Linked DNA regions of Homo sapiens: regions 2 and 3 are each linked to region 1. Evidence: fine-mapped QTL for protein levels in blood plasma. A gene starts in region 1. Each other region holds a variant in brackets. All regions are shown on one strand. Distances are between the middles of the regions. Region 1 holds the start of COLEC11 (collectin subfamily member 11). Region 2 overlaps TRAPPC12 (trafficking protein particle complex subunit 12). Region 3 overlaps COLEC11 (collectin subfamily member 11).

Evidence for each region. PIP is the posterior inclusion probability: the model's chance that the variant is causal. Sun 2018 read protein levels with aptamers (SomaScan).
Region 2: its variant is fine-mapped to the plasma level of the COLEC11 protein (Sun 2018, PIP 0.95).
Region 3: its variant is fine-mapped to the plasma level of the COLEC11 protein (Sun 2018, PIP 0.95).

What each region holds. Positions count from the first base shown.
Region 1 is chr2:3,593,019-3,597,238 of GRCh38, forward strand. It overlaps COLEC11 (collectin subfamily member 11), which reads left to right and starts at 2,094. Exons shown (of 7, transcript NM_024027.5): 1 at 2,094-2,150.
Region 2 is chr2:3,429,169-3,433,388 of GRCh38, forward strand. The region is part of intron 5 of TRAPPC12 (trafficking protein particle complex subunit 12); the gene reads left to right. Among named protein-coding and RNA genes, the nearest start is that of TRAPPC12, 52 kb to the left of the region's middle. RefSeq lists an enhancer at 1,469-1,969. The variant A/G (reference allele first, on the strand shown) is at 2,507.
Region 3 is chr2:3,605,176-3,609,395 of GRCh38, forward strand. All of the region lies in intron 2 of COLEC11 (collectin subfamily member 11), which reads left to right. Among named protein-coding and RNA genes, the nearest start is that of COLEC11, 12 kb to the left of the region's middle. The variant C/T (reference allele first, on the strand shown) is at 1,919.

The DNA of each region.
Region 1 (4,220 bases):
GTCTATGAGTTCATTGTTATTTTATAGAAATCTGCTTGGTTTTTCATTGTTTATTATTTTTTTGAGACAGAGTCTCGCTCTGTCACCCAGGCTGGAGTGCAATGGCACAACCTCAACTCACTGCACCCTCTGCCTCCCGGAGTCAAGTGATTCTCCTGCGTCAGCCTCCCGAGTAGCTGGGATTGCAGGCATGTACCACCATGCCTGGCTGATTTTTGTATTTTTAGTAGAGATGGGGTTTTGCCTTGTTGGCCAGGCTGGTCTCTAACTCCTGACCTCAGGTGATCCTCCCACCTTGGCCTCCCGAAGTGCTGGGATTACAGGTGTGAGCCACCACGCCTGGCCTACTTGGTTTTTTAAATGTTTGCCTTGTATCCTGTCACCTGTCACACTGATTTAATAGTTTCCAGGAGCTCTTTTGTAGACTCTGGGATTTTCTAAGTAGACAACCATGTCATCTGCAACAAGGGACAGAGTTATTTTATTTTTCGAATCTACATGCTGTTTATTTCCTTTTCGGGCCCTGCTGGTGTGCCTAGAACTTTAGCACTGCATTGAGTAAGAGGTAAGAGTGGACACCCTTGCCTTGTCTTGATCTCAGGAAGGAAACATTCCATTTTTGCCCATGAAGTATGATGTTAGCTGTGGCTTTGCCTTTGACAGATGCTCTTTATCAAGTTGAGGAAGGTCCCCTGCACCTATTTTTCTGAGAGTTTTTATCATGAAAGGTGTTGGTTTATGCCAAATGCTGTTTCTATATAAATTGAGATATTCATTTGATTTTCTTTGTTAGCTTGTTAATGGGTTTTTATCAAAGGAGCTTTGAATATTGACATAGCCTCACATTCCTGGATGAAACCCCATTTGGTCATAGTTGATAAATCTTTTTCTATATTGCTGAATTCTGTCTGTTAATATTTTATTAAGGATTTTCTCATCTATATTCATGAGGGTTATTGGTCTATAGTGTTTTTGTTCTGTCTTTGTCTGGTTTTGGTATCAGGGTAATAATCAACTTTATAAAATGAATTGGTAAATATTCCCTCCTCTTCTATTTTCTGGAAGAGGATGTGTAGAATTGGTGTTAATTTTTCTTTAAACGTTTTGTAGACCCTCCTGTGAAACCATCTGGCCCTGAAATGTCTTTCTGGGGAGCGTTTAAATTGCAAGTTCAATTCCCTTCCTTGGCATAGGGCTGTTGAATTATCTGTTTCATGCTGGGCATGTTGTAGTTCGTGTTTTCAAGAAGTGGTTCATTTTGTCTAAGTTGTCAAATTTATGTATAACTTCAATAATACGTTTTAAATAAAGAATCCATTATTTTTCCTTAATTTTATTATGTGTGTGGAATTTGTGTTTTTACAGTTTTATTTTATGATTTCTCAGTCTAAATAAATATTCACCTTTGAACCTAGCTTCTTATGATTGTAATTTTATATGTATCTTTTTCTTAAAGAAGGTTCCGCTATCCCCCAAAACATGCAAGATTCGGGCTGCATAGAAGCTGGATCTGTCCAGCCCCTGACTAACATTTGTTTCTGGCATTAAATGAAACTTGCCTTTAAATGAAACTTAAATGCGTAGAGTGAGTTTCCGGACTCACGTGTGGCCAGGTCTCCACAGGCCGTGGTCAAGCTCTTGCTGACTTTTGAAGCGAAATCCCATATGAACAAAGGAAAGGAGATCAGTCAGCTGCCCTCGTTTCTGTCTGATTGGTGCCAGGTGATGAGCGTCCCTCCTCTTTATGCTCTTTTGAATTTCCACAGTAGTCATGCTTATTTTTTCAAAAAACGAAAAGAAAGAAGAGAAAGCCAAAAAAGAAACAAAATTGGGATGTTCGGGTTGGAGAGTTAGCAGGGGCATCTCCAGGAGGGTCCTGCCCCCCACCCCAAAGCCGGCCTCAGGGAGTTCCAGGCGTTCCCACACTCCCCAGGCAGGACGGTGGACGCAGCGCAGACAGGAAGCTCCCCGAGATAACGCTGCGGCCGGGCGGCCTGATTTGCTGGGCTGTCTGATGGCCCGGGCCGAGGCTTCTCCCTGCGCCTGGGACTGCGGCCGCCTCTCTAAATAGCAGCCATGAGGCGCCTGGGGGCAGTGTCCTCGCGGGCCAGCGACGGGCAGGACGCCCCGTTCGCCTAGCGCGTGCTCAGGTAGGAGACTCTGCCCGGGGCTGCAGCTGAGGGTTTCACGGGGCTATGACAGTGCAGAGGGGAGGCAGGCAGGCTTCCAAACTGGGCGCGAGGTGGGCTCCTGCTGAGCGAGGAGGATGGGAATCTGTCCCTAGATCCAGGCAAAAGATTGAGTCTCAATAAATCTGGCACCAGAGTTCCAAAGTTTGATTAGTTCATGGCGGAAATTCGTGGAGCCTATTGATGAGATGGGATCCGACCCATGAGAGGTGCTGGATGATGGAGTCACCCTCTTGGGTGGCAGATTTCAAACAGCCCAAGGCCCAGGGGGCTAAACAGTCTTCGCTAATTCCAAACCGCAGTGCAGTACCTGGTCTCACAACCTGACGATTGTTCCTGAGCCTGAGCAGCGTCTGACGGGCCAGGCGGACAGCAGCCACGACTGCCCCCAGGGACCAGTGGCTCTGTGTTGGGCTCAGGAACGGGGATCAGAGAGGTGGGGGAAAGGTGGGCCTTGCTTTGGCAACTTTCCAGGGAAAGACTTTGAGTTCAGATGGGGTCATCTAAAACCAAGTGGGGTCATCTTGTCTCCAAAATTGGAAAGGAGGAAAGTTTCCTAGGGCCGCTGCCTCCTACCTGGATGCCTTGCGCTAGGAACTGGCGGTCTTTTTAGAGCTGAGGTGATGTGGTCGTTCTCAATTTAAAGATGAACGTTTAAAGCCATCTCATGTGCATAGCTGGAATTTTGGTTTGATGGGAAGCACTTTGCCTGTGGTAGGCAGAGCACTGCCCCAATCTTTCACAGCTATTCGATTTTGTTTACAATTTTGAAAAATCCATGTACCGTAGAAGAGAGCACACCGGTAATGTGCTGACCGCTGGGGGAAGATAAGAGAGGATAGGTGCCTTCTTACTCTGTGCTCTTGGTAAGAAGCTAAGAGGAGCGTGTGCTGTTGTGGGTGGAATCCAGGCTGCCCCAGAAGGTGCTCTGTCACTGTAGGGAGGGAAACACCGCGGTGGGGCTGGGGCAGTCCCCAGTGAGAGGAACCTCCTCATGCTTCAGGGATGTGGTTCTTAGGAGGTATTTGTGGTGCCTGTAAGATGCTGGGCCTTGCTGTAGATACTTAATGAAAAAGTAGAATAGCATGTTTGGCAACTGAAGCCATGATTTTTTCTCATTGTCTATTTCATTTTTTTTTTTTTTTTTGAGATGGACTCTGGCTCTGTCACCCAGGCTGGAGTGCAATGGCACCGTCTTGGCTCACTGCAACCTCCGCCTCCCAGGTTCAAGCGATTATCCTGCCTCAGCTTCCTGAGTAGCTGGGATTACAGGTGTGCATCATGGCACCTGGCTAATTTTTGTACTTTTTAGTGGAGAGGGGGGTTTCACCATGTTGGCCAGGCTGCTCTCGAACTCCTAACCAGGTGATCTGCCCACCTTGGCCTCCCAAAATGCTAGGATTATAGGCATGAGCCACTGGGCCTGGCCCCATTGTTTATTTCATTCATAACATGTATTTCCTCTCAGGATTCCACGTTTAACCCCCTCTCCCCTGCTTGTCAAGTCTGCCCCTTCCATTGATGGGAGGGCCCTGAGCGTCTTGGGCCCTGGCTGGGAGATAAGGATGTTGTTCTTAAAGAGGTCCTGGGGGTAGCTGTGGCTTCTCCGTTTACAAAATGGAATTCCTCTTCTAAGAAGGCAGTCAGAGGGCGAGACCTCTGGGAAGCAGAGACTCCTTCGGGCGCCTGGGTGCCCTCACCCTGTGCCTACCTGCCCTGGTTCCTGCTGTGCGTCTGAGAGCGCCCCGCTGCAGGGCCTGTGCCTCCTTTGTGCCCATAGGCCTAGCTGGGGCCCCTCGCAGGAAAGTGGACAGAAACTCTGTGAATGGGCAGCGGGGTCAGTGAATGAGTGGAGCGAGTGAAGGCATGAGAAATCCCAGCCTGGGCTGTTCCGGGGATCAGTGGATGAGTGAAGTGAGGGAAGGCACAAGAAATCCCAGCCTGTGCTGCTCCGGGGTCAGTGAATGAATGGAGTGAAGGCACAAGAAATCCCGGCCTGGGCTGCTCCGGGGTCAGTGAATGAATGGAGTG
Region 2 (4,220 bases), 160 kb before region 1:
TCCACATCTTTTCATTCACTGGAAGTCCTCTGTGTCCCTGCAGGACACACTTAAAGACTGTGTGGCTTTAGCTCCCTCAGACTTCACACATAACTTGGCAACTGAGCTGTTCTGTCTAGAATTGTCATGCAGCTTCAGGAATTCAGAGGATCGGCGTTGGTCATACTGGTGGAAGATGTCAAAACAAGAAGAATAAAAATAGTGTGCAGAAAACTTGCTCTTAGCCACTGTCTTATCTCTGAAAATTGAACTTCACTTGCATAGTGATACCCTGTATCATGCATCTCCAGGGACAGAAAAAAAGATAAGTATATCTTAAATTTGCCTTTCCTATTCGCGTTTCTCTGATTTTGAAACAGAAGTTCCCTATCCGTGAATTCTTCAGATAGTTGAGGTAGAGTACTCTTGCATTGCACAGGATGTCACTGTTGTTTCCAGATGGATTTGTGCAAATTCAGATATTTGATTTTTCTATGTTGCCCACGTCTATTTACTGTTTACTTTTACTTTACTTTTTTTTCTGTTCTAATAGCTTTTTAATAAAAGCTATTTACTTTTGTTCTAACCCACTACTTCCGTACCTTATGAGAAAGTCTGTTTTGGGATCTGGTTGAATCTATTCTTTGCTCAACAAAAATTGATGTTTATTTAAATACAAATATTAAATACTCGGACCATTAACAAATATTTTTTCATATTTGCCTTAGACATTTTTGTAACAAATGAAAGTACCCATTGCTGATACAGCCTGTGAACCTCCTCCCAATTCAGTCCCCTCCCAGAGGCAGTCACAATCATGGTTTGTTGTGTATTCTTCCAGGTCATGTTTTTACATATTTGCTTCATACACACACATATACATACACACAGAGAAATACATATACAGAGAGAGACTATTGTCTTATAAGCTTTGTAAATGTACATCATGAGCATATCTGTCTTCATTTGCTTTTTTTTCCCCACTTTCCATTATTCATATCCATCCATATCCGTATCCATAAGGATGAACAATTAGGATCTTTCCACCTTTCGGCTATTATGAGCAATGGTGTTATGGGCATCCTTGTACATTTCCCTTTGTACATGTTCAGGCGTTTCTCTGAGCTGTAAATTTAAAGTGGCATATGTGAGAGTGACCATGCTAATTTCCACTCCCAGCCACAGCCTGTCAGTTTGTTTCCCCACTCTTGTGTAACTAAAGATTGTCAGACTTTCACCAGTGAGTCTAAAATTCTACCTCCTGTCGCAACTGACGTCTTTCTGATTTCTGCCGAATTATGTGTCCTTTGTCTGTCGGAGTCTCCTCTTTGGTGACTCACTCTTTCATAATCTTGGCCTGTATTTCTATTGGGTTATCTTTGTTATTAATTGGTTGAGGTTCATTCTATATAGCAGGTATTTAATCCTTCATCTGTTTTGTATTTGGGAAATATTAATATCTTCTCCCATTCTGGGAAATACTATTTTCAACCCTGAAAAAATAATTCTAGTTTAAAAATACAAACATAACCTTTTTTGTTCGCAACATGACATGTTTTAGGAGTATCTTCTTTATTCCACATACTGTTATATCAGGAATAATAAATGCAAAGAAATCATGCCTATGTCATTGCCAAGTAGGCTGAGACAAGTAAAGACATTTACCAGACAGCTTTCCAAAACGTTTCCTAAGGGAGCTGCTGCACACTGTTGCTGGGACCTTCCGCTGGGTGTGGGAGGAGCTCTGCACACTGTTGCTGGGACCGTCCACTGGGTGTGGAGGAGCTCTGCACACTGTTGTTGGGACCATCCACTGGGTGTGAAGGAGCTCTGCACGCTGTTGCTGGGACCGTCCGCTGGGTGTGGAGGAGCTCTGGGAGATGCGGTGTTGGGAAGAGAGTCTACACAGTTGCTGACTTGCAGCTCTTCACCTGGAGCTTCCAAGAGCTCTGAGGCAGGCCCGCAGAGCCCCTCGTGCACACTTGTCAAAGATGCTCTCTCTCCTGGCATACCCTTGAGGCCCTAGGCCACCTGCTGCCCTCGCCGTCTTCCATCGAGTACAGTGGGATGCACTTAACGTGAGTGCTCCCGGGATCTCATCCCACAGAGTCTTTGGCCCTGTAGACAGACAGTCTCTGTAATCTTGTAATCTCCCCACAGCACAGCCGTCTGCCTTCACTGGCACCTCAGCATCTGCAGGGAGCATCCCGGTCCCAGGAAACATCATCCAGCCCAGAGGGCGGCAGGGTCGCCGTCGCCATGGATGCCAGCCTTTACCCAGCACTAAAAGTATTTTTGTTTTTGTTTGTCTTAAATGTTGATAACTTCATAATAACTATTTACGTTAGGGCTTTAAAATACCTTTCCAAAATCCTACAAAGTTTCTCTTTTGAGAGCCATTCTTCAGATCCCTGTACTAGCCTTCTTTCTTTAATTTTCTTTTAGATTTTTTTTTTTATTTTTTAAATTGTTACACTAGTGCAGATTGTTTCTCCCATTATAGGGTTTGCAGTCATGAAAAGTGTTG[A/G]TAGGGATTATATCCATGAAAATATTTCTAGAACATTCATTCATTTTATATTAACAGCTTGCATTGGTGTGGTACATTTGTTACAATTGATGAACCAGTATTGGTACAGCATTATTAACAAATGTTTATAGTTTACACTTGGGTTCACTCTTGTGTTGTACATATTCACTATGTTAAAGAAAATTAAATGTCCATTCCTGACAAGTTTAATTTCATCCTCTCTCAGGCAGTTAAATTTTTCCAGACCCCCACCACCATCTTTTTAATCTGTTGTTTGGAATTACCCCTCTCGTTCCAAAGAAACATTCACAATGGCAGTGAGCATGTAAACTTTCATAGTGCTTTGAATTTTTAAAGTACCACATTCTGCATTAGATTGCTCACTTCAAGTTTCCATGCAACTAGAGGGAAAATAGGAGCCCAAAAGATCTTCCCGCTGGAAATAAAGCAGCTTGATTATCTTCACTATGCAGTTTAAGAAGTATAGTGCTGCTTCTAATACTAAATTCAGATCTGCATGTTTAGACTAAGTTACAAGAGCTGTAATGACGTCACAGGAAATGGTACTTCAGAACTTAATCCGTGCGGATTACCATCAGGTCAAATTAAAGTGGATGGGGCAAACACTTCCATTAATCGGATGCCGAATCTCTCTACTCTTCCATCAGCTGTCTGCTCCTCTATGTGCATAAAGGCACACTGTCACTGGATCTTTCTTCCTTTTTCATCCTCCCTCCAAAATCATGAAATTCACATTTTGAGTTCTCAAATTAAATTCTGAAACTTTTTTTTATCAACACATAACCATATGTGATATCTCAGAATTAAATATTCAGCATGTTTCCAGTGTCGGATTTTATTTTTCATGACAAAATTACCTCACCTTGCAGAGTGACCACGTTCTGCTTTAGATTTCCAGGTCACAATGCTTTGCATCAGAACTCCCGAGCGTTGATGGTTGGACATGTGATCGCTGCTTTATTTGTTCGGAGAAGGCTCGTTAGTTCATCTTACTGCTTTTCACTTTGCCCACCGTTTTTATGAAATCTGGCATTTTCAGTCTTTTCTTAGAACAAACTACTAAAAATAGGGGAATTTTCAGTTTGGGGTTCCGTATCTACCATGAGAACACCCAAATGGAGACCTCTCCTTATCCTGTCTGCACAAGATACAGGCCTTGGCCAGTCACTGGGCTGTAGCTGAAGCCACACGTGGATTGCACATGACTGTGGCAGACGCGTACAGAGGCAGTGACCCAAGCCTCAGTTTGTCTTCATGCTTCAGGGCTTTAGTTAAGCAAATCATTTAAATAAGAAATATTTAAGGTATTTTTTTCTCTTAGGACTTTCTCACTGTTTTTGTGTTTGGTTTGTTTTGTTTTGTTTTTAATTTACAATGCCACATTAAAGTCAAAAATGACTTGTTGAGAGCTGTAAGTGTGACACTGTGTGCTTGGCCGGGCACAGACACCAAGCAGTATCCCCAGCGTTGAGCACAGGCAAACCAAAGGCATGGCTTATCCTGCCTGCTGAGGTCAGGATAGGGAAGGACACACCCAGACAGGCAGAGACAGTGGGAAATAAATACAAAGCAGTCTTCCCAGCAAAGCACTCGCGTAACTTGAAAATGAGACGGAAATGCCAGGGCAAACTTGTAAGTTTGTGCCTTACTGAAGAAAGCTGTTAAAATTGGGCAAAGGGTCTGGAAGGCTCCC
Region 3 (4,220 bases), 12 kb after region 1:
TGTTCAAAATTACAGAACCCAAGAAGGGACAGCAGAGTGTGTGCCAGTGTCGGGTGGCAGGGCCGGGGCTGCACCGGCCGCAGCAGAGTCCAGGCCGCCGCTGAGGGGAGTCACGTGGGTGCCGAGGAGGGGGCGGGGGAGTCACGTGGGTGCCGAGGAGGGGGCGGGGGAGTCACGTGGGTGCCGAGGAGGGGGCGGGGGAGTCACGTGGGTGCCGAGGAGGGGGAGGGGAGTCACGTGGGTGCCGAGGAGGGGAGGGGAGTCACGTGGGTGCCGAGGAGGGGAGGGGAGTCACGTGGGTGCTGAGGAGGGGGAGGGGCGGCCACGTGGGTGCTGAGGAGGCGGGGGAGGGGAGTCACGTGGTTGATGAGGGGGAGGGGAGTCACGTGGGTGCTGAGGAGGGGAGGGGAGTCACGTGGGTCCTGAGGAGGGGGAGGGGCACATTGACCTTTTGCAACCTGAATCCGGTCCGCCCCCTCCTCATCCGCGGTCCGCTTGGGCCTTCAGCTTCTCCTGTGGAGCGTCTGCGGCTCTTTTTATTGAAACATTAGAGAAAAGTAGATTCAAACCCATGATCAAAACAGTCACCACGAAAGACAAACCCTGCTCAGCCCGTGTTGTACAAAATGAAAAGGTCAGCCCTCTCCCGGGGCACAGGGTCCGGACAGCTCGGGGCCACCCTGCCAGGCTGTGCAGCTCTGGCTGGGGGCTTTTTTCCGGCTGTGTTAGCCCTGCTGTTGGAAACCAAGTGGACTGTCCTGCAGCCCAGACAAGCCCAGTGGCCTTTGTGCTTTTAATTGTGATAAATGTACCTGCTTTAGAAAATGTTTAATTATGTTGGAAGCAACTTAAACTGTTGGATGCCTACGGCTCTCTCAGAAGTTTTGGTGAAAGTGGCTTTGGCCCTGACTTTGTGGTAGCGTGTGTGGGTTTGTGAGTGGAACCTTCAGCTTTAGGTTGGAAACGGTGGCTGTGGAGAGCTGGACTTTTGGCTGTGGAGGTCACGTCCCTGCCCAATGTGGTGGGTGCCTCCGAGTCCCTACGGTTGTCTTCCCTGCGCCCTGCCAGGTCAGTAGCCTGCACTGGTGGGGGCCGTGGGGTGGGCTCCAGGGTCCTTTCTGGGCGCCGCCTTTCCCAGGTGCTGTTGGGAGGGTCCTTCCCAGCTGTCCACGTCCTGGGTCCCCTGGATGTGCTGTCATTTCCCACATGGGTAGGGTCCCTTCTCAACCTTTGCAGGCTGGGAAGTAGGGCAGGTCTGAGGGTGCTGTGGGTCAGCCGTCCTGCGTGACGGGTCACCTGTCCTCCCAAGCCTCGGCCTCCTGGTCCGTGAGGTTGGGGAGGCGATGCCAGCTTGGGGCTCTGTGGGGATGCAGTGGTGGCACCAGGAGTGGGCACACAGTGACCGGGGACCCAGCCCCTGCTCCTTGCTCTGGGACAGTGACTTACAAAGCACTAACCCTGTGCAGGCAGCGAGCCCGACCAGGGAGCAGATCAGGTGTCCGTCCAGCACGTGCCCCGCGAGTCCGCAAGCGAGAGGCGAGCACCAGGGGCAAGGAGCGGTTTAGAAGGATTCAGGATACCCAGCATGTCAGGAATTGGGTTACTCAATGGAGAAAATGGTGTGTGCCAGCAGACTTCATCCCTGCCGGCCCCAGCATGTGCCGTAGCCCCCCAGGGTCGCTGGAGGTCAAAGAGGAGAGGCAGCGTGCGGCACAGTGCCAGCTTCTAAGGAAACAGACACACACGCAGTCACCATTCATTAGACAAGCGTCCGTTGAGAATCCACCAGGCAGGCTCAGGGCTGGGATGAAGAAGCCGCGGCCTGTCTCCTCACAGTCCCGCCGTTCGGCCCCGGACACGGGGTGGCATCTGGTCTGAGAAACACAGCACGCGCCGCCCCCCCAACCCCCACAACCCC[C/T]TGTGTTTTGGATCCTGAAACCTCTGCCAACTCCACATTTGGCTGGAGAATCTTCCTGAGCACACGAGTCAGGCTGCCGCTGACTGCTGGTGGTGCTTGAGATGACATTTATTTGCCATTCCAGGCCATTTCAGATAATAATAATATATTATCTTTACATTTAGAGGGAATAATATATTGTCTTTACATTTAGAGAGAATGACAACTCCTTTTAATGGGAAAAAAGTCTTTTTTTAATGGTTAAAAAAATGGCTGTAGGTGAGAAAACATTTATCTGTATTAACAAATGTGTTTCCCAGAAATATGAAAGGTCATAGTTCTTCTTATAGGCTTTATCAAATGAATTTTTTTTTTGCTTTTTTTTTTTTTTTGAGATGGAGTTTCTCTCTTGTTGCCCAGGCTGGAGTGCAATGGTGCGACCTTGGCTCACTGCAGCCTCCGCCTCTCAGGTTCAAGTGATTCTCCTGCCTCAGCCTCCCAAGTAGCTGGGACTATAGGCGCGCACCATCAACGCCCGGCTAATTTTTGTATTTTTAGTAGAGACGGGGTTTCACCATGTTATCCAGGCTGGTCTCGAACTCCTGACCTCACGTAATCCACCCGCTTTGGCTTCCCAAAGTGCTGGGATTACAGGTGTGAGCCAACATACCTGGCCTATCAAATTAATTTTAAAATCATTTACTGCCATTCTTTAAAACAACATTGATAAAACCAGTAATGGGGCCTGAATAACATGCGCTGTGGGAGGTTTGCTCTTCTGACACCTGACGGCCTGTCTGTGCCGTCTCCCCTTGTGTAGAACAAGCCAGGCAGGCTGAGGTCCTGGCTTTCTCCTCTCTGACTTCCCATGGCCCTGGGGTGCCGTGGCACTTGTTGTGGCCAGCAGGGATGTGAAGTCGCTGGCACACGAGTTTGTTCAGCTTGTAAGCAGGTGGCGTGACAGTCAAGCACTGTCCACGGATCTTCCTCAACTGGCTATAAATATGTCGAAGTATCTTAGGTTCTCAATAAAATAACTGACATGCGCCTTCCTAGCTGGGTTGGAAATGACCCCAAATACGATCTAGGTAAAAGCTTTTTGTTCGTAGATTTGTACATGATTTGCAGGGAAGCCAAGCAAACAGTAAATGTCAGCCACGTTTTGTTTCTTTGAGCGAGGAGAGAGCTGCGTTGTGGTGATGGTGGAAGTGAGCCAGCAGTTGAAATGTTAGCCTCTCCTGGTAGAGAAATAACTTGTCATTAGAACTTTATGTAGTCAATCATCCTGAAAATGAAAAGGATGTGGGAAAAATGTCATTGTGCTCGCTGGGTCTACATTACAAAATGCATGGAGTGTTGAGTGGGGACGTGTATAGAAATCCTGCTCTGGAGTCATTACCTGCAGGGACATACATCTTTATGACCCCTGGGACCAGTGGACAATGAACACTTCAAACCTTGCCAAATTGGCCAGGTGCAGTGGGTCACGCCTGTGATCCCGGCACTTTGGGAAGCCGAGGTGGGAGGATGACTTGAGCCCAGGAGTTTGAGTCTACCCAGGGCAACAGAGTAAGACCCCATCTCTGGAAAACAAAAAACAAAAACAAAACAAAACAAAAAAACAACCCTGCCAAATTGTGAACAGTGCTTGAAAACAGCCTTGGTTCTTAAGATGCGTGGACAGGGCAAGTCTACAAGGCGGAGGCGACGGGGACCGTGGAGAAACCAGGGCAGCCCCGCCGTGGATGGGAGGCCTCTGTACTCTCTGGTCCTCAGTGCTGTTGGTCCTGAACCAGGGATTAAAATACTTTTTCTCGTGACAACCAGCACGGTGTCTTCCAGGGCATATTTTGTTCAATCCCCATCAGAGCTGAGGAGGACCAGGCTGGGAGGGCTTACGCTGGGTTTTGCACAGGAAGGAAAGCAGTTTCTGACTCCAGGTTTGGGTTCCCCACACTGCAGGCACAGCCGTGAGGCATTTGGGGTGCCTGCTGCCCAGCACTGGCTGAAATGCGCCTGGCCCTGTACAACTACAGACACAGGTCCATTAAGCAGAGCCCTTGGGAGATGGCATGTAAGTGGATTTTGTGATTAGCTGAGAGATATAAAGAAAACGTGTGTTAAATCCTCTTCTTTAGAAAGTCTTGCTGTTTTTAATGACTTATGATTCTTTCTCTCCTGCTTTAGTAACGAGAGTTTGTGGGACACAGTGTAATGTGTGGTGCTTTTCAGGGTCTCTTTCCGTGCCTCCAGTTGTTACTATGAACTATTTTTCTTTGATTTTTTTTTTTTTTTTTTTTTTTTTTTTTTTTTTAGAGACAGG